Linked DNA regions of Homo sapiens. The protein of the gene in region 1 binds, or shares a complex with, the protein of each later gene. Each region holds a gene or a part of one and is shown on either strand. Other genes may lie near its edges. The genes, in order: NLRP5 and KHDC3L.

Region 1 (11,922 bases):
AAATCATTCAAAGCTGGGTCTGAGACTTCAAGCCCTATAATCTTAACTGCTGCTTTCTAATCATTCAGGACACCTGGGTAGAAAGGTGAGGTGGGAGGGGTACGGTCTGTAGAAAAAGCATAGAGACAAAATGCAAGCTTAGGGAAGTCACTCATCCTCAGAAAATAACCTCAACCAGCAGCCTTCCTTTACCTCCCTCCAGCTGTATTCCTGCCTGGACTCGAATAACTAGCTTCTCCCCAACTCCTCACCCACCCGACTTCACGGGAAAAAGTGACTGCCTATCCCAGATTAATCCTTAGGCCGTCCAGTCATCTTTCTCTGGGGCTTGATTGATCAGTTCCCACTCTGACAACTGGCAAATACCAGGCGTTATCATCCTGTATGCATTAACGTACTTTCCCCTGAAACAGAGCAACCCAGTCAACACCACAGAACCTCAGCTTTGAACCCTGGAGTGAGGACGGTGATGCCCTGTGTGTATTAATATGCTATGTAAGGCTGGGCGTGGTGGCTCACGCCTGTAACCCAGCACTATGGGAGGTCGAGGTGGGCAGATTACCTGAGGTCAGGAGTTCCAGACCAGCCTGGCCAACATGGTGAAACCCCGCCTCTACTAAAAAAAAAAATACAAAAAATTAGGCGTGGTGGTGGGCTCCTGTAATCCCAGCTGCTCGGGAGGCTGAGGCAGGAGAATCACTTGAATCTAGGAGGCAGAGTTTGCAGTGAGCTGAGATCACGCCATTGCACTCCAGCCTGGGCGACAGAGCAAGACTCTGTCTCAAGAAGAAAAAAAAAATACATATACACATAAATATATATATGTGTGTGTGTATATATATATATATATATATATATGCTATATAAAGTTTAAATGAAATGCTTTGAGTCACCTAAGACAGGATATAGACAAAGTCTTCATCGTCTTCTTGCTTCTTCTACCTTTATTTATTCTCAGCTCTGAATGTATGAACCTGCTCAATCACCTCATCTTAAAAATAAAATCACTGTCCCTAGACCATACTCGTTTCCTTACCCACCCCTGAGGCTTTTGTTGGTTTTTACAGCCCTGGTTCACGTCTTGGTCCTCCAGCCCCTTTAAAGGATTGTGTAGAGCGGTAAGGGAAATGTTTAATTCAAATTACGTGTATATAGAAGTGTTTAGATATGACAGTCCGAAATTCGTTCTTTCTCAAATAACCTTCCTTCTTAATTTCATTGCCTAAGTTGAGAGTCTTTGTCTTCTGTGTTTTGCTTTCAATTTCCATGTATCCAGGTGGTTTATGTTAACTCAGAAGGGGGAGAAAAACCTAGAAAATCTTAATTGTTCTGTGGTCAGGATGTAAGCTTTTAAACATGTGCTCAGAAATAAGTATTTTTCCATTTACCAATAGTCAATATTGTCCCTAAATATTTATAGGAATGTGTAGAAAAGCTTATTTTCTTGCTATGGTTCTATTTTGAGCAATACAGCACATAAACTTCAATGTTCTATCATCAGTGTTCACGTGTACCTAGTTTTTTGGTCTTCCATGGATGGGTAATTGTAAGAATACCTCAATTGTTTTGATGAAATTCATTTATGTCTACTTATCTTCTACTAAAATGATTTTTTAATGGGAGGTACTTTTTAGTATTTGGTGATTTTTGGTGTGTATGTGTTAGACAAAGTCTCCCTCTTTTGCCCAGGCTGTAGTGCAATGGCTGGATCTCTACTCACTGCACCCTCCGCCTCCCAGGTTCAAGCAATTCTGCCTCAGCCTCCCGAGTAGCTGGGATTACAGGTGCCCGCCACCACGCCCGGCTAATTTTCATATTTTTAGTAGAGACGGGGTTTCCCCATGTTGGCCGGGCTGGTCTCGAACTCCTGACCTCAGATGATCCACCCACCTCAGCCTCCCAAAGTTCTGGGATGACAGGCGTGAGCCACTGCGCCCGGCCTTTTTCAGTATTAATTTGAAAGAGCAGCAATATGAGAAGGTGTGGCGGGAAGTGTGTCCTTCCCTGCCCCCGTAGTGTCTCTTCCCTATTTTCTGCTCATCACCCAAAGACATTCTGCGCACGTGTATGGCATTAAGAGCCTTACAGATGGGGCAACTTTCTGTGCTGATTGTTGTGCATTTTTAAGGATGCAGGGCACGTTGGTGCTCAAATTAACCCACCTGTTTTTAATCGACTCCTAAATGGTCTTCAGTCTTGCTGTTTTACACACGGCTGGGTCTAATTGCATTTAAAACGGATAAAGATTGTTAAAGTACCGTCCAAAAAGATGGCACCCATTTACACTTCACTAATGTAGGAGCACCTTTTCCTTCACCCATCACAAAGCAGCGTCCAGTCACACATTGTGGACATTGTCAGCCTCACATGTCAAACGTAGTACATCATTTTGGCTATTTACCTTATCAGTAATAACTTTTTTTTAAAGTACATTTAAAAGTCATGCCGTTTCTTTTTTTTCTTTTTTCTTTTTTTTTTTTTTTTTTTTTTTTTTTTGAGACAGTGTCTTACTCTATGCCCAGGCTGGAGTGCAATGGTGAGATCTCAGCTCACTGCAACCTCTGCCTCCCGGGTTCAAGCGATTCTCCTGCCTCAGCCTCCCGAGTAGCTGGGACTACAGGCACACGCCACGATGCCCGGCTAATTTGTGTATTTTTAGTAGAGATGCGGTTTCACCATGTTGACCAGGCTAGTCTCGAACTCCTGACCTCAGGTGATCCACCTGCCTCAGGATCCCAAAGTGCTGGGATTACAAAAGTCATATGCAGTTTTTTAACTCTTCAAAATCCTTCTAATAGGCTGGGCACAGTGGCTCATGCCTATAATCCCAGCACTTGGGGAGGCCGAGGCAGGTGGATCATTTGAGGTCAGGGGTTTGAGACCAGCCTGACTAACATGGCGAAATACCCTGTCTACTAAAAATACAAAAATTAGGCCGGGCACGGTGGCTCATGCCTGTAATCCCAGCACTTTGGGAGGCCCAGGCGGGTGGATCATGAGGTCAGGAGATCGAGACCATCCTGGCTAACACGGTGAAACCCCGTCTCTACTAAAAATACAAAAATTAGCCGGGCATGGTGGTGGGCGCCTGTAGTCCCAGCTACTCGGGAGGCTGAGGCAGGAGAATGGCAGGAACCCGGGAGGCGGAGCTGGCAGTGAGCCGAGATGGTGCCACTGCATTCCAGCCTGGGCGACGGAGCAAGACTCTGTCTCAAAAAGAAAAAAAGCTGGGCATGGTTGAGGGTGTCTGTAATCCCAGCTACTGGGGAGGTTGAGGCAGGAGAATCACTTGAACCCAGGAGACGGAGATTGCAGTGAACTGAGATCATATCACTGTACTCTAGCCTGGGCAACAAAAGCAAAACTCCATCTCAAAGAAAAAAAAAATTCCGCTGAGCTGTTGATCATTATCATGGATTGGAAGAGCTGTTTACGTAATGCATTCTTTGTCATGTCTCAAATTTATTTGCAGCAGTTTTTTCAGCGGGACTTTAAAGATTTGTTTGTTTTTCTGGAGTGAGGAGGGTACTGTATTGAATTAATCTGTCATCTTGTCTCTTTTATACCATTCGATTGAGACCTTCTATTCCATTTGCTCATTATTTGGGGGCTAAATGTAAAGTAGGAATTCATGAACATAAATATTTCAAAATTTAGCCCCCGGAAATGGTGACCTTCTATCGTAGATGTTAAAGTGCAGCCTAGACATCAACAGAGTGAATATCATTCTTCTTAGAATTTTCTTGTCTAGTTTTGGCTTTTCATAGAAACATTGAGTTTCTTGTCCTGATAACAATATCAGCAGTACTTCTTGGATGATATTATACTGATGGAGGATGACTGATGTGTTGGGAATCTGCCTCTGCCTCACCACATTGAGCCTTTTATCTAGCAGCCGCATTTTAAAGCTCTCAAAACAGATAGCCACTTTTCTAAATTATGCATGTTTTACCTCTATAGTTGCTGTTCATTTGATCTCACGTTTAACTGGTTATTAGATTTTGTGTGGGATTTCATCGTTACATTTGTTACCAGCCCAATTTAATAACTACATATAATTTAAAATTGAGTAATTTATTAGGCATACATACCTACATACAGATGTTAATTTTCACCTTTTTCCACTTTTATACCTCCTCTTTATCTGATTGCTTTCCTATCAAATATAAATTAGGTAAATATAAATAATAGTGGAATATCAGATATAAAGAATAGGGAGAGAGTACAAAACTGAACGGAAGTGCTGACAGCTAACATTCTTTTTTTACTTTTTAGTTTTGGGGGTACATGTGAAGGTTTGTTACGTAGGTAAACTTGTGTCATGGGGGTTTGTTATACATACTATTTCCTCACCCAGGTTATTAAGCCCAGTACCCAGTCGTTATTTCTTTCTGCTTCTCACCCTCCTCCCACCCTCCACCCTCAGGTAGACCCCAGTATCTGTGGTTCCCCTCTTTGTGTCCATGTGTTCTTATTTAGCTCCCATTTATAAGTGAGAACATGTGGTAGTTGGTTTTCTGTTCCTGTCTTAGTTTGCTTAGGATGATGGCCCCCAGTTCCATCCATGTTCCCACAAAAGACATGATCTCATTCTTTTTTATGGCTGCATAGTATTCCATGGTGTACGTGTACCACATTTTCTTTATCCAGTCTGTCCTTGATGGGCATTTAGGTTGACTCCATGTCTTTTCTATTGTAAACAGTGCCACGGTGAACATTTGCATGCATGTATCTTTATGGGAGAATGCTTTATATTCCTCTTAGTGTATATACCCAGTGATGGGATGGCTGGGTCCAACGCTACTGCTTTTAGCTCTTTGAGGAATCTCCACCCTGCTTTCCACAATAGCTGAACTGATTTACACTCCCACCAACAGTGTATAAGCTTTCCATTTTTTCCTGCAACCTCAGCAGCGTCGGTTTTTTGACTTTTTAATAATGACACGTAACATTCTTATGGGATTCTCTGTAGGGCTTGTGTCAAATCCAGCCCATTGCCCAGTTTTGTAAATAAAGATTTATTGGAACACAGCTTTTCTCCTTTGTTGACAAATTGTCTACAGCTACTTTCCCAGTGCAGGAGCAGCTAAGCACGGGTGGCAGAGAGCAAATGGCCCCAAAGCCAAAAATGCCTGGCTCCTTCTGGGAGATTTGCTGACCCCTGATCTTTGTCAAAAATAGATACATTTGCTGCAGTTTTTCCTTTATTTTAGTTGACACATAACTGTACATATTTATGGAGACTTTTTTTTTTTGAAATGAATTTTCGCTCTTGTTGCCCAGGCTGGAGTGCAATGGTGCAATCTTGGCTCACTGCAACCTCTGCCTCCCAGGTTCAAGCGATTCTCCTGCCTCAGCCTCTTGAGTAGCTGGGATTACGGGCACCTGCCACCATGCCTGGCTAATTTTGTATTTTTAGTAGAGATGGGGTTTCTCCATGTTGGTCAGGCTGGTCTTGAACTCCCGACCTCAGGTGATCCACCCACCTCGGCCTCCCAAAGTGCTGGGATTACAGGTGTGAGCCACTGCGCCCGGCCCGAGTGATATTTTGATACCTGTATACAATGTATCATGATCAAATCAGGGGACTTAGCATATTCATCACCCCAAACATTTGTGTTGTGAACACTCTGTCCTCCCTTCTAGCTTTTTGAGAGTGGACAATAAGTTATAGTTCACCATATTCACCTGCAGTGCTGCAGAACACCTGCACCCATTTCTCCCTTCTACCTGTAATCTTAGCACCCATGAGCCATACTCTCCCCCTCCTCTCCCCCTCCTCTCCCCCTCCTCTCCCCCTCCTCTCCCCCTCCTCTCCCCCTCCTCTCCCCCTCCTCTCCCCCCTCTCTCCCCCCTCTCTCCCCCCTCCCTCCCCCTCTCCCCCCTCCCCTCCTCTCCCCCCTCCCCTCCCCCCTCCCCTCCCCCCCTCCCCTCCCCCTCCCCCTCCCCCTCCCCCTCCTCTCCCCTCCTCTCCTCCCCCCTCCTCCTCTCAACCTCCCCTCTCCCCTCTCCCTCCTCTCCCCTATCCTCTAATACCCACAATTACATCCCCTACTTCCATAGTCCCATTTGCTCAATTTAACTCCCACATATGAGTAAAATACATTCAGTATTTAGTTTCCCATGCCTGGTTTATTTTGCTTCACACAATGAACTACAGGCTGTAGCTCACATGAAGAGCTACAGGCTCATCTGTGTTGTCACAAATGGCAGGATTTTTTGAAGGCTGAAACATGTTCCCTTGTGTGTGTATACCACGTTTTCTTGATTCATTTGTTGATGGACAGTTAGGTAGATTACATATCTTAGCTATCGTGAATAGTGGGGTGGTAAACATGAGAGTGCAGACATACCTTTGATATACTTCGGGTAAATCACCAGATCGCTGGATCATAGGGTATTAATCTATTTTCAGTTCTTTGAGACACTGCTACACTGTTTTCCATAATGGCTGTGCTAATTTACATTTCCACTGACAGTGGAAAGGAGTTTCTTTCTCTGCATCCTTGCCAGCATTTATTTTTCGTCTTTTTTGATAGTAGCCATTCCAACTAGAGGGAAATGCAAATCAAAACCACAGTGAGATTGCGATGATGAGTAATGTTGAATCTTTTTTCGTATCTGTTGGTCATTTGGATGTCTTTTGAGAAATGTCTGTTCAGGTTTTTACCCACTTCTTAAATGGATTACTTGGAGTTTTGCTATACAGTTGTTTGAGTTCCTCATATATTCTGGGTATTAGTTCCTTGCCAGATCATTATTTTGCAAATATTTTCTCCCATTCTGCGGGGTTTTTTTGGGAGGGGGGACAGAGTCTTGTTCTGTCACCAGGCTGGAGTGCAGTGGCACCATCTCAGCTCACTGTAACCTCCAACTCCCTAGTTCAAGCGATTCTCCTGCCTCAGCCTCCCCAGTAGCTGGGATTTCAGGCACGTGCCACCACACCCAGCTAATTTTTGTATTTCTAGTAGAGATGGAGTTTCACCATGTTGGCCAGGATGGTCTCGATCTCCTGACCTCATGATCCACCTGCCTTGGCCTCCCAAAGTGCTGGAGTTACAGGCCTGAGCCACTGTGCCCAGCCAGGTTGTCTCTTTACTCTTGGACTATTTCCTTTGCTGTACAGAAGCTCTTTAGTTGGATGTACTCCTATTGGTCTATTTTTGCTTTTGTTGCCTGTCCTTTTGAAGTCTTAGCCGCAAAATATTTGCCTTGACTTGTATTCAGAAGAGCTTTCCCTATGTTTTCTTCTGGTAGTTTTATTATTTCAAGTCTTATGTTTAAGTACTTTATCTTGAGTTGATTTTTATATATGGTGAGAGACAGGGGTCTAGTTTAATTCTGCATATGGTTATCCCGTTTTCGCAGTACCACCTAGTGAACACAGTGTACTTTCCCTAATCTTGGTGCCTTTGAAAATGAGTTGGATGAGTTCATGCTCTTTGTAGGGACATGGATGAAGCTGGAAACTATCATTCTGAGCAAACTATCGCAAGGACAGAAAACCAAACACCACATGTTCTCACTCATAGGTGGGAATTGAACAATGAGAACACTTGGACACAGGGTGGGGAACATCACACACTGGGGCCTGTCCTAGGGTGTGGGGCTGGGGGAGGGATAGCATTAGGAGAAATACCTAATGCAAACGATGAGTTCATGGGTGCAGCAAACCAACATGGCACATGTATACCTGTGTAACAAACCTGCACGTTGTGCACATGTACCCTAGAACTTAAAGTATTAAAAAAACTTAAATATTAAAATATTCTAACAAGTCCTGAAAAATACATTAAAAAAGAAAGAGTTGGCTATAAATATATGGATTTCTGAATTATCTATTCTGTTGGTCTATGTCTGTTTTCATGACAGTGCCATGCTGTTTTGGTTACTATAGCTTTGTGAAGTCAGGTAATATGCCTCCAGCTTTCTTTTTGCTCAAAATTGTTTGGGCTACTTGGGATCTTTTGTGGTTCTATACAAATATTAGGATTGTTTTTCTATTTCTGTGAAGAATGTCGTTGGTGTTTTGATAGGGATTGCATTGAATCTGTAGATTGTTTTGGGTAGGATGGCCATTTTAACAACATTCTTCTAATCAGTGAACGTTAGATGTCTCCATTTTTATCTATCCTCTTCAATTTTTTTCAGTATTCTGTGGGTTTTACTATAGATATTTCTTACCTCCTTAGTTAAATTTATTTCTAGGTACATTTTTGTAGCTATTATAAAGGACATTGCTTTCTTTTTCAGCTAGTTCATTATTGGTGTTTAGAAATGCTACTGTTTTTATGTTGATTTTTGCATCATACTGAGTTCATTTATTATATAAAAACTTGCATCATACTGAAAAATTTATCCAAAAATCAACATTTTTGTATGTTGATTCTGCAACTTTACTGAATTCCTTTATCAGTTCTCTGTCTTTTGGTGGGGTCTGTAGGCTTTTCTAAATGAAAGATTATATTGCCTGCAAACATGAACAATCTACTTCTTCTCCAATTTTGATGCCCTTTGTTTCTTTTTCTTCCCTAATTGCTCTGGCTAAGACTTCCAGTACTGTGTTAAATAGGAGTGGCGGAAGTGGGCACCCTGTGTGCCAGTTCTTAGGGAAAAGGCTTTCTTCTTTTCCACATTCAGTATAATGCTAGCTGTGGGTTTGTCATACATGGCCTTTATTGTTCTGAGTTATGTTTCTTCTGCGTCTTATCATAAAGGGATGTTGAATTTTTTTTTCTTTGTTCATCTTTTCTTTTATACTTTAAGTTCTAGGGTACATGTGCACAACGTGCAGGTTTGTTACATATGTATACATGTGCCCTGTTGGTGTGCTGCACCCATTAACTCATCATTTACATTAGGTATATCTCCTAATGCTCCCTCCCCCACAACAGTCCCCGGTGTGTGACGTTCCCCTTCCTGTGTTCAAGTGTTCTCATTGTTCAGTTCCCACCTATGAGTGAGAACATGTGGTGTTTGGTTTTTCGTCCTTGCGATAGTTTGCTCAGAATGATGATTTCCAGCTTCATCCATGTCCCTACAAGGACATGAAATCATCCTTGTTTATGGCTGCATAGTATTCCATGGTGTATATGTACCACATTTTCTTAATCCAGTCTATCACTGATGGACATTTGGGTTGGTTCCAAGTCTTTGCTATTGTGAATAGTGCCACAATAAACATACGTGTGCATGTGTCTTTATAGCAACATGATTTATAATCCTTTAGGTATATACCCAGTAATGAGATGGCTGGATCAAATGGTATTTCTAGTTCTAGATCCCTGAGGAATCGCCACACTGACTTCCACAATGGTTGAACTAGTTTACAGTCCCACCAACAGCGTAAAAGTGTTTCTATTTCTCCACATCCTCTCTAGCACCTGTTGTTTCCTGACTTTTTAATGATCACCATTCTAACTGGTGTGGGATGGTATCTCATTGTGGTTTTGATTTGCATTTCTCTGATGGCCAGTGATGATGAGCATTTTTTCTTGTATCTGTTGGCTATATAAATATCTTCTTTTGAGAAGTGTCTGTTCATATCCTTTGCCCACTTTTTGATGGGGTTGTTTGTTTTTTTTCTTGTAAATGTTGATTTTATCAAATGCTTTTTCTGCATGTCTTGATGATCGTGTGGTTTTTGTCCTTCAGTCTGCTGATGAACCACCCTTGCAACCCTGAGATGAATCCCACTTCATCATGGGGAATGATCTTTTTGATGTGTTCTTAGATTTGGTTACCTAGAATTTTGTCAAAGATTTTTGTATCTATGTTCATGAGAGACGTTGGCCTGTAGTTTTCTTTTTTGTGTGTCCTTTTCTGGTTTTGGTATCAGGACAATGCTTGGCTCATAGAATGAGGAAGAATTCCCTCCCCTTCAATTCTCGGAATAGTTTGAGAAGAATTGGTATAAGTTCTGTAAAAGTTTAAAAGGTAGCTGGGCATGGTGGCTCATACCTGTAATCCCAGCACTCTGGGAAGCCAAGGTGGACAGATTACTTGAGGACAGGAGTTAGAGACCAGCCTAGCCAACATGGTAAAACCCCATCTCTACCAAAAATACCAAAATACCAAAAATTCTGGTTAAAATACCAAAAAAATAGCTGGGTGTGGTGGCTGGCACCTGTAATTTCAGCTACTTGGGAGGTTGAGGCAGGAGGATCACTTGACCCCAGAAGGCAGCAGTTGCAGTGAGCTGAGATTGCACCACTGCAGTCCAGCCTGGGTGACAGAGCAACACTCTATCTCAAAAAAAAAAATTAATTTGAAGGATATCTAGTCCTGGTTTGTAAAGTGTTTCTGTTGATACTATTTATACATCCATTGAAGCTATATATTTTTTTATTCTCTGAATGTTGAAGGTAGGGAGCAGGAAGTACTATCTACTCTTATAAATGGTTTTATCATAATCAAAATAATCAAAACAACCATGGTAGCATACACACACACAGAAAACATCTTTTCCTGGAGGGTAGGTAGGTTAATGAAAACCTTGCCTCTTTTAATGAAATTAAGTAGGAATTCCAAAGATTGGATTAGATTTATCTTATCTCAGTCCTGAATTTCAGACATTCTAAAATTATAAAAATATAAGAAACCAGGTGTGGGGTGTGCACCTGTAGTCCCAGCTACTTGGGGAGTCTGAGGCAGGAAGATCACTTGAGCCCAGGAGTTCAAGGCTATATGGTGAGCTATGATAGTCACCACACTCCAGCCTGAGGGACAGAGTGAGACACTTTTTCTAAAAATATATATGAGGCCAGATGTGGTGGCTCACGCCTGTAATCCCAGCACTTTGGGAGGCCGAGGCGGGTGGGCCACAAGGTCAGGAGTTCGAGACCAGTCTGGCCAACCTAGTGAAACCCTGTCTCTACTAAAAATACAGAAAATTAGCCGGGCATGGTGACAGGTGCCTGAAATCCCAGCTACTCTGGAGGCTGAGACAGGAGAATTGCTTGAACCCGGGAGGTGGAGGTTGCAGTGAGTTGAGATTGTGCCACTGTACTCCAGCCCGGGCGACAATGCAAGCCTTCGTCTCAAAATATGTGTGTGTGTGTGTATATATATATATATATATATATATATATATGTGTGTGTGTGTATATATATATATATGTGTATATATATATACACACACTTTAGCCTCACCTGCAGATTCACAAATTGAAGCAATCCTAAATCCACTTTTATTTTTAATTGACAATAATTGTATATATTTGCGAGGTACAATGCGATGTTTAGATATATGTATACATGGCAGAAAAAAGCTAACATGTCCATTGCCTTAGTTACTTTTTGTGGTGAGGATGTTTAAAATCTACTTTTAGCAATTTTGGAGCATATATTAATACATCTTTTCTTAAATTCCATGGCAGGTTAAATACATCATTATTAACTCTAGTTGCCATGCTGTGCAGGGGATCCCTAAAACTCATTTCTCTGACTGAAACTTGTTTGTACCTTTTCATCAATATTTCCTTTTTCCCCATTTTATCCCCCAGTCTCTGGCAACCACCATTCTTCTCTCTGCTGCTATGAATTTAATTGTTTTAGAATCCACACAATTGAGATCCTACTAAATCTTTTTTTTTCTTTTTCTTTTTTTTTTTTTTTTTTGGAGACAGAGTTTTGCTCTTGTTGCCCAAGCTGGAGTGCAATGCCACAATCTTGGCTCACTGCAACCTCTGCCTCCCAGGTTCAAGTGATTCTTCTGCCTCAGCCTCCCGAGTAGCTGGGGTTACAGGTGCGCGCCACCATGCCTGGCTAATTTTTTGTATTTTTAGTAGAAATGGGGTTTCACCATGTTAGCCAGGCTGGTCTCGACCCCCTGACCTCAGGTGATCTGCCCGCCTCGGCAGTAGCGTCGTAAGCCTGAGCGCTTGTGTACCGTGACATACTCTTCTGCTCAGGACGTCTCGG
Region 2 (9,660 bases), on another chromosome or scaffold:
GCCTTTTGCAAGCGTTTTAAACTCACAAGTCTCTTTAATTGTGCTTTTTTGATTAGAGGTGATGTTGAATATTTTCTTTGTTTCAGTTTTACATTTTTCTTTATTCATTCCTTTTTTTTTTTTTTTTTTTTTTTGAGATGGAGTCGCTCTGTCCCCCAGGCTGGGGTGCAGTGGCGCAATCTCGGCTCACTGTACGCTCCGCCTCCCAGGTTCACCCCATTCTCCTGCCTCAGCCTCCCGAGTAGCTGGGACTGCAGGCGCCCGCCACCATGCCCGGCTAATTTTTTTTTTGTATTTTAGTAGAGACGGGGTTTCATTGTGTTAGCCAGGATGGTCTCCATCTCCTGACCTCGTGATCCGTCCACCTCAGCCTCCCAAAGTGCTGGGATTACAGGCGTGAGCCACCGTGCCCAGCTTTCCTGGTGAGATTTTTATTGTTTATTTTTATTTATTTTTGAGATGGAGTCTCGCTCTGTTACCCAGGCTGGAGTGCAGTGGTGTGATCTCGGCTCACTACAACCTCCGCCTCCCGTATTCAAGCAATTCTTCTGCCTCAGCCTCCCAAGTATCTGGGATTACTGGCATGTGCCAACACACCTGGCTAATTTTCGTATTTTTAGTAGAGACGGGATTTCACTATGTTGCAAGGGTGGTCTCAAACTCCTGACCTCAGGTGATTCTCCTGCCTTGGCCTCCCAAAGTGGTGGGATTAGAGGCGTGAGCCACTGCACCTGGCCCTGGTGGGATTTTTATTTTTATTTATTTATTTTATTTTATTTTTTGAGACAGAGTCTCGCTTTGTCACCCAGGCTGGAGTGCAGTTGCACGATCTTGGCTTACTGCAACCTCCGTCTCCCAGGTTCAAACGATTCTCTTGCCTCAGCCTCCTGAGTAGCTGGGATTACAGGTGCGTGCCACCACGCCCAGCTAATTTTTTGTATTTTTAGTAGAGATGGGGTTTCACCATGTTAGCCAGGATGGTCTCGGTTTCCTGACCTCGTGATCCACCTGCCTCAGCCTCCCAAAGTGCTGGTATTACAGGCGTGAGCCACCGTGCCTGACCCCTGGTGGAATTTTTATAAAACCATTGAACATTTTGGGTTTTTGTTGAGACAGTCTCACTCTGTCACCCAGGCTGGAGTGCAATGGTGCAATCTCGGCTCACCGAAACCTCTGCCTCCCGGGTTCAAGCGATTCTCTTGCCTCAGCCTCCCGAGTAGCTGGGATTACAGGCACCTGCCACCATGCCTGGCTAATTTTTGTATTTTTAGTAGAGAATGGCCATTCTGGTCTCGAACTCGTGCCCTCAACTGATCCACCTGCCTTGGCCTTCCAAAGTGGTGGGATTACAGGCATAAGCCACTGCACCTGGCCCATTAAATATTTTGTTATTGGGGAAAAAGGGGTAAGCTTAAAACTTATTCTAATTTTTCCAAAAATACTGTATGATCCTAAACTCCTTCCATCCTTTGTACACATTAACATATATTGAAGTCCTAATCCCCAGTACCTCAGAATATGACTATATTTGGGCAATATTTGAAATCTTTGACTCTCAAGACTCTTGGCATAGGGCAACCTCTCCTGTTCCTCCATGCTGGGCAGCTGGCTTGGCTTGATGGCATCTATAATTCCAGCATGATATAGAGTTTCCATTTACTGGGTGTTTAGAGAAAGAAGCAGCCATATGAATAGGTGAAACTTAAAGTGTCAGTTCCGGGAAAGATGTTCATAGATATTTTGGATATGAGTTGAAAAGGTTGTGAGGGCCGGACATGGTGGCTCAGGCCTGTATTCCCAGCACTTTGGGAGGCTGAGACAGGTGTTGACCAGCCTGGCCAACATAGTGAAACCCAGTCTCTACTACAAATAAAAAAAATCAGCCAGGTGTGGTGGTGGGCGCCTGTAATTCCAGCTGCTCGGGAGGCTGAGGCAGGAGAATTGCTTAAACCCAGGAGGTGGAGGTTGCAGTGGAATGCCGTTGCATTCCAGCCTGGGTGACAGAGTGAGACTCCATCTCAAAAAAAAAAAAAAAAAAAAAAGAGTAGACTTGCCCTCTTAAATATTAAAACAGTCTATAAAGCTACTTAATTAAAATGGGGGTAGATATCAGAAAAAGTAGAAAAGTTACACATGAACATAAAATAGATTGGTAACACTGAGTTTGGGCAAGGACAGTGAAAACAGCTTGTAAAGGAGAGAACCTGACATTCTGGTAAGGTGGGTATTACACAGAGAAAGACAACATACACATTAAGTTTTAGCTCTGCTCTGATGTAGCCTCATTTGAAACTGATTTTGTGTTGATTTTGAATTTAAAGTGTTCTAAAGTTCTTCTAAAATTAGTCAACTATTTTAATAAAATGATTAGCGGTTAAAAGTTGCTAATAAGTTATTGTAAATTCAGCTTTATGTGGTAATTCCCTTATTGTAAGATACATGATTATTTTAAACTGGAGTGATAATTAGCGGTGACAAAAAGAGTCTGATAGACATTCACCTTATATTTAAAGTTAGCTTTGAACTTTTAAAAATTACTAGTGATTGGCCGGGCGTGGTGGCTCATGCCTGTAATCCCAGCACTTTCGGAGACCCAGGCGGGTGGATCACCTGAAGTCAGATCAGCCTGGCCAACATAGTGAAGCCCCTTCTCTACTAAAAACACAAAAATTAGCTGGGCGTGGTGGCGCGGGCCTGTAGTCCCAGCTACTCGGGAGGCTGAGGCAGGAGAATCGTTTGAACCCAGGAGGCAGAGGTTGTGTTGAGGCGAGATCGAGCCGTTGCACTCCAGCCTGGGCCACAGAGAGAGATTCTGTCTCCAAAATAAAATGAAGATTACCAGTGATTCTTGGTTGGTTAAAAAAAAAAAAAAAAAAAAAAAAAATCCTAATTATAGAATTACTGCGTGCTATTGTTTAATCCTAGCACCCAGCTGTTGGCTTGCATCCTTCTAGATTAATTCGCAGGCTCAGGGACCTGCATCCCAGCGCCCTGACCAAAGCTGTGACCCTAGGGAAGCCAAAGTGTTCTCTGCTGGGGCTTCTCGCTGCCATAGTAACTGAGGAAAGAGTAGCCGATGCCTGTATCTTGCTGGTGTCCACGACCTTCGTGGAAGGTGGGTGACCCAAGCAAGACCTGAAGACTGCAACAGTGCAGCCCAAGAGTGCAGCTCGGGTCTCTTCGTTTCCCCCTTCCCCGATGTCATTTTCCCCAGCTGAGAAAGTGTTCTGTGACAGAGTAGCAATACACCCAGGGCCTTCCAAATCCAGCTGGCCCCCAAGCGACCCAGTTTTCTCATCCCAAGTCACCTTGAGTAGAACGACAGCGGGCTTGGAGAGATTTCCTAGTGGGCCAGAGAGGCTTCTCACCTGTTAAAGCCAGATGCGCGCGGTTAAGGAGTACAAGGGGCACACCGGACCACAGCCGGGGAAGATGGCCACCTCGGGCGGCTAGGAACCACAGGCCCCACCTGCCTCGAGGTAGAGGGCTGCGCAGGGCAGAACTGGGCTGTTGGAGGAATGCGCCTTTCCCTCCCCTCTACCTTCCAAAATACAGACGTTAGGGAAATGCAATTATTTATTAGAACTCAAGTTTGTGTTGGCAACCATTCAACAGAAGGTGTAAAACAAAAACAATCCACATCATCCTTCCTCGCCACCCCAGCTTCCTGGACTTAAGTGAGGCGGGGGGGAGGCGGGGGGCGGGCTTCCACTTTGCAATTCTTTATTAGAACTCAAGTTTGTGTTTGCAACCATGCAACAGAAAGGGTAAAACAAAAAATCCACATCCTCTCCCCAACCCCAGCTTCTGGGCGGAAATACGGGCTTTCACTTTAACCCCTGACTGGCTCTGGCTCCAGGGCCTGAGATGCCTTCATAATCTAGTAACTGGGTCCCGGGCATCCTCGCGAAACCGCTGGGTCACTGCCTTGCTGGCAGCTTCGGGGGATCGCTGGGTCCCCGACTTGTTGGCAGCCTGGAGAGACTGCTGGGTCCCGGCCTCCTGCACCTCCACCGGAGAACCCTGTGTCCCGACCTCCTGGACTTCCACCGAACGCTGGGTCCCGGCCTCCCGGACCTCCACCGAACGCTGCGTCCCGGCCTCCCGGACTTCTATTGAAGACCGCTGGGTCTCGGCCTTCTGAGTGGCGACATCCTGGGCGAGGGCCTTTCCTGAGCCTGGAAGAAGAGCAGTGTGCAGAGGCCACAGCTGTGTCTCTATATCCTCTCCAAAAAAGGACAGTCACCCAAGCGGCCTGCGGGAGTAGGAGCCAGAAATCCCAGAACGAGGGTTCAATTTGGCCTTCTGGATCCGTGGCAGCGAGAACCGCCCCCTCCCCCACCCACCAACCGCAGGCCGACTGGGAGGGCGAGACTGCCGCCCCAGCAGCCAGGAAACCCCAGGATCACTCCTACGGAGCCAGGGTTTGCTCCAGGTAGCCCTATTCCCAGCCCCGTACCTTTCGCCTGGAGCTGGCGGTGATAGTCAGCCAGGTTCATGATCATCTTGATTGTGTCCTCCTGGTAAGAAGGCCTCCCAAATACCAAGATCTCAGCCTCGCCGTTAGGGTCCAATCGATTCACGTGAATCAAGATTTGGGACATACCCTGGACGTGCGGGATGCGTTCTCCGCCCCGGCCTGCGCGGGTAGCAGAGAGGCTGTGAGGGACCGGTGGCTCCCGGGGGTCTTGGGAGGGGAAGGTGGAAGGAGGAGACAGCCAGAGGGCATTGGCTACTGGTGAGGATCGCCCTGGAACGCAGCCAGAATATGTGGGCTGTGGGTATGGGTGGCAGAAAGAAGCCGCATGGGGGCTGCCCCTTCTTGGTCCACTCACCGAAGATCTTTTCCACCAGCCAAACCTCAAGGCGAACTACCTTCGGATTCTTCAGGAACTCAGAGTGGAACCAGGAGAACCGCTTAGGGAGGTGACCGAGCACCTCCACTGGCATTGCTTTTGGCTGCATCAGTTGCACGAGCGTCGGAAACCGCCTGGGAGCGTCCATGCTGCGGCCGGTCCTGCAGGAGACAAGGACACCACAGCAAACCCAAAGGCCGAGCTGGAGCTGGGAGACTAGAACCGCGGTTCTGCCTGGGCCTTATTTCAAGGGCTTTTGGCCAGCCCCTCCTCTCTAGCCGCGCCCTTCTTATTGGGTCCCAGGCCTCGCCTCCGCCTCCAGGAGCCCCGGCTTCTTCCGAGGCCGCCCAAGTGCACCGGTTCCTGGGCTGCTCTTAGAGTGTCCCTTCTGTCAGGAGCAGCCCTTTTCCCAGCGCACCCGGTAGGAGGAACCGGGCTCTGGGCACCAGGAATCCGCTGGTGCCCAGCGGGAGTCTTAACCATGGACTCAGGAAGGCGTGGGCAAGCCCAGTATCTCTCCCAGAGGAAAGAACTAATACTTGCAGAATGAATACTTCATAGGTCCCTCACGCGCTTCTGATCCCTGGCCACTACGTTTCCTCCCTCTGGACCAGGTTTTCAGATTATTCTGTCACTTGCCTGAGACTGCTGAGTACAGAGCAGAATAAGCGCCCGCCTTTTTTCTTTCTTTTTCTTTTTTTTTTCTGTTATAGGGTCTGTGTAGTGAGATTTGCATAGTAAAAAAAAAAAATGGATAGAAAAAAAGTTATGGGGCCTGGCTATGTTGCCCAGGTTGGCTTCGAACTCCAGGGCTCAAAAAAATCCTCCCTCTTTAGCCTCCCCAGTAGTGGGACTATAGCACGCTTTTAATTAATGCAGCCATGAACACACCTAACCACAGATAGTTCTCGTGGTTTGGACACAAGATGAGATTCCTTGAAAATTTTTGACATCTCTATTCTCTTTTTTATTTTTAATTTTTAAAATTTGCTGCAGGGTCTCTCTGTGTCACCCAGGCTAGGGGGCGGTGGTGTGATTATAGCTCACTGCAGCCTCCATCTCCTGGGCTCAAGAGATCCTCCCTCCTCAGCTCCCCCAGTAGCTGGGACTACAAGCTCCCGACACCATGCCCAGTGATGCCTCTGTTCTCTAAATAACACAATTATATTTGTCTCTTTCTTCCTTCCTTTCTTTTTTCCTTTCCCTTTTCCTTTCCTTTCTTTTCCCCTTCCCTTTCTGACAAGGGTTCGTTATGTTGCCCAAGCTGGTCTCAAGCAATCCTTCTGGCCTGGGCAAAATGATAAAACCCTATCCCTACAAAAAATACAAAAATTAGCTGGACTAGGTGGCACGCACCTGTAGTCCCAGCTACTCGGAAGGCTGAGGTGGGACAATCCCTTGATCCCAGAGAGGCTGAGTCTACAGTAAGCAGTGATGGTGCCTCTGCACTCCCCCCTGGGTGACAGAGTGAGACCCTGTCTCAAAAATAATAATAATAATAACTGTTTTAGATGTGTTGCTATAAGACAAATTATAATTTATAATTTATTTTTATTCAGTATTGAAACACTGAAGAGAACTTCAGGTTTGCCACATTAATAGGCCGAATGTATATATTCAGACCATGCCCAACCGGCTGAATATATTTCATATGTAGGAATGATTTAGTAGTTGGGAAATTCTTACTTGCTAATTGAGATGATTAAAGTACTTTGCAAAACAACAAGAAAAAAAAAAACCATTAAAAATGGGGCAAAGCCGGGCACAGTGGCTCACGCCAGGAGTTCTAGACCAGCCTGGCCAACATGGCGAAATCCTGTCTCTATTAAAAATACAAAAATTAGCCGGGCATGGTGACGGGCACCTGTAATCCCAGCTACTCAGGAAGCTGAGGCATGAGAATCGCTTGAACTCCTGAGGCGGAGGTTGCAATGAGCCGATATCAGGCTACTGAACTGCAGCCTGCTGGATAGAGCGAGACTGTCTCCACAAAACAAACAAACAAAACTGGGCAAGGAGCATGAAGAGATATTTCTCAAAAGAAGAAATACAGGCAGCCTACAAACACATGAAAAAATGCTCCGCATCACTAATCAGAAGAGGAATGCAAATTAAAATCACACCGATATACCATCATACACCAGTCACAATGACTTTTATTAAAAACTCAAAAAACAGGGCGGGCATGGTGGCTCATGCCTGTAATCCCAGCACTTTGGGAGGCTGAGACGGGTGGATCACAAGGTCAGGAGTTAAAGACCAGCCTGGCCAACATGGTGAAACCCCATCTGTACTAAAAATACAAAAATTAGCCGGGCGCAGTGGCAGGTGCCTGTAATCCCAGCTACTTGGGAGACTGAGGCGGGAGAATTGCTTGAACTTAGAGGGTGGAGGTTGCAGTGAGCTGAGATTGAGCCACTGCTCGCCAGCCTGGGTGACAGAGTGAGACTCCGTCTCAAAAAAAAAAAAAAAAGTCAAAAAACAGGCCGGGCGTGGTGGCTTACACATGTAATCCCAGCAATTTGGGAGGCCAAGGCGGGCGTATCACCTGAGGTTAGGAGTTCAAGACCAGCCTGGCCAACATGGTGAAACCCCATCTCTACTAAAAATACAAAAATTAGCGAGATGTGGTGGCAGGGGCCTGTAATCCCAGCTACTCGGGAGACTGAGGCAGGAGAATTGCTTGAACCCGGGAGGCAGAGGTTGCAGTGAGCCAAGATCGTGCCATTGCACTCCAGCCTGGAGGACAGAGCAAGACTCTGTCTCGGAAAAAAAAAAAAAAGAAATAAAAAATGTCAAAAAACGACGTAGAAGTCCGGGCACAGTGGCTCACACCTATAATCCCAGCACTTTGGGAGGCCGAGGTAGGCGGATCACGAGGTCAGGAGTTTGAGAGCAGCCTGACTAACATGGCGAAATCCCTTTCTACTAACAACACAAAAATTAGCTGGCCGTGGTGGCTGGCGCCTGTAATCCCAGGTACTCGACAGGCTGAGGCAGGAGAATCGCTTGAACCTGGGAGGCGGAGGTTGCGATGTGCCCAGACTGCGCCATTGCACTCCATCCTGGGCGACGGTGCGAGACTCCCTCTCAACAAAAAAAGAAAAAGAAAAAGAAAAAAGAAAACACACACACACAAACAAAAAAAAAAAAAACAAAAAACGACGGGGCACGGTGGCTCAAGCCTGTAATCCTAGTACTTTGGGAGGCTAGGATTTATATATCTACCACTATCTTTCACCCTCTTCCAACCCAGGTAAGCTGGGACTTAACTATGTGCATCAGACCTAGATCATCTTAAAACAGAGATATGATTTTGTTAGATCAATATTCAGTGTTCGCACTATTACGACTTTGTAAACTATTCATAGTTGTATATACTATGATTTCTTTTCTTGACAAAGTTTTGTTTTTCTAGATATTGATAATGGATTTATTTATTTATTTATTTTTGATGAGACAGCATCTCACTCCGTCACCCAGGCTAGCGTGCAGTGACCCATCATAGTTCACAGCAGCCTCCAACTTCTGGGTTCAAGTGATCTTCCCACCTCAGCTTCCTAAGTAGCTAAGATCACGGGCATGTGCCATCACAACTAATTTGTTTTAATTTTTTTTTTTAGGACAGGCTGGTCTTTTTTTGTTTTTGTTTTTGTCTTTTTTTTTTTGAGATGGAGTCTCGCTGTGTCAACAGGCCGGAGTGCAGTGGTGCAATATCGGCTCACTGCAACCTCCACCTCCTGGGTTCAAGCGATTCTCATGCCTCAGCCTCCCGAGTAGCTGGGATTACAGGCATCCGCCACCAAGCCCAGCTAATTTTTGTATTTTTAATAGAGATGGGGTTTCATCATGTCTCAGTGCCTGCAACATGGCCACTATATGCCCAGGATGGTCTCGAACTCCTGGGCTCAAGCGATTCTCCCACCTTAGCCTCCCAAAGTGTTGGGATTACAGGCATGAGCCACGGAACCCAGCCTTATTTCTTTAATATGTATTTTTTCCCAATCTTCGTGAATATTTACCTTGTATGGTATCTTTTACTTGTGCTAGTAATGCTATTGAAATCAGTATCCTTCTACATGTCATTTCTTACAAGGGGGAGTATAACTATAGGATGAAATTTCAAATGTAGAATTGCTGAGTCAAAGGATCTGTAAATTTCCAATTGATAAGGTATTGCCAAATGGCATCCCTCCGAGGTCGAACCAACCTATATACTCACCAGCCTTGTTGCTAACATTATAATATGATAAACATTGACATTAATTTTGGATAAAAGCAATGCATATGCTTTTAAAAGCAATGCATATGCTTTTAAGTGTTCCACCTTTCTAAAAAGTCATTATTTGGAAATGCAAGTACCGATGGGTGGCAAGCAGAGCCCATGCAATGGCCAGATGTCCTCTAAGACACTTGCTGCAACCCAGACCTACAGCAGAAGTGATCTTTAACATTTGGTTATAAAAATTTTCTCCAGGGCTGGGCGTGGTGGCTCACACCTGCAATCCCAGCACTTTGGGAGGCTGAGGCTGGACGATTGCTTGAGGCTAGGAGTTCTAGACCAGCCTGGGCAATATAGGGAGAGCCTATCTCCATAAAAACTAAAAAATTAGTCATGCATGGTGGCGCATGCCTGTGGTCTCAGCTACTTGGAAGACTGAGGTGGAAGAATCGCTTGAACCAGGGAGGCCAAAGCTGCAGTGAGCCGAGATCACCACACTGTACTCAACCTGGATAACAAAGTGAGACATTGTCTCAAAAACAAACAAATAAATAAATAAATAAATAAATAAATAAATAAAAC

Evidence for each region.
Region 2: NLRP5 (region 1) and KHDC3L share a complex: the UniProt entries of both Homo sapiens proteins name them as parts of the subcortical maternal complex.

Annotation. Positions count from the first base shown.
Region 1 is NC_000019.10:55,987,612-55,999,533, forward strand, and holds part of NLRP5 (NACHT, LRR and PYD domains-containing protein 5), read left to right. Parts: intron 1-202; coding exon of another isoform or gene 203-302; exon of another isoform or gene 303-1,018; intron 1,019-11,922. UniProt on the Homo sapiens protein: Component of the subcortical maternal complex (SCMC), a multiprotein complex that plays a key role in early embryonic development.
Region 2 is NC_000006.12:73,358,074-73,367,733, reverse strand, and holds KHDC3L (KH domain-containing protein 3), read right to left. Parts: upstream 5,077-9,660; 5' UTR 5,005-5,076; coding exon 4,836-5,004; intron 4,640-4,835; coding exon 4,460-4,639; intron 4,179-4,459; coding exon 3,874-4,178; 3' UTR 3,563-3,873; downstream 1-3,562. UniProt on the Homo sapiens protein: Component of the subcortical maternal complex (SCMC), a multiprotein complex that plays a key role in early embryonic development.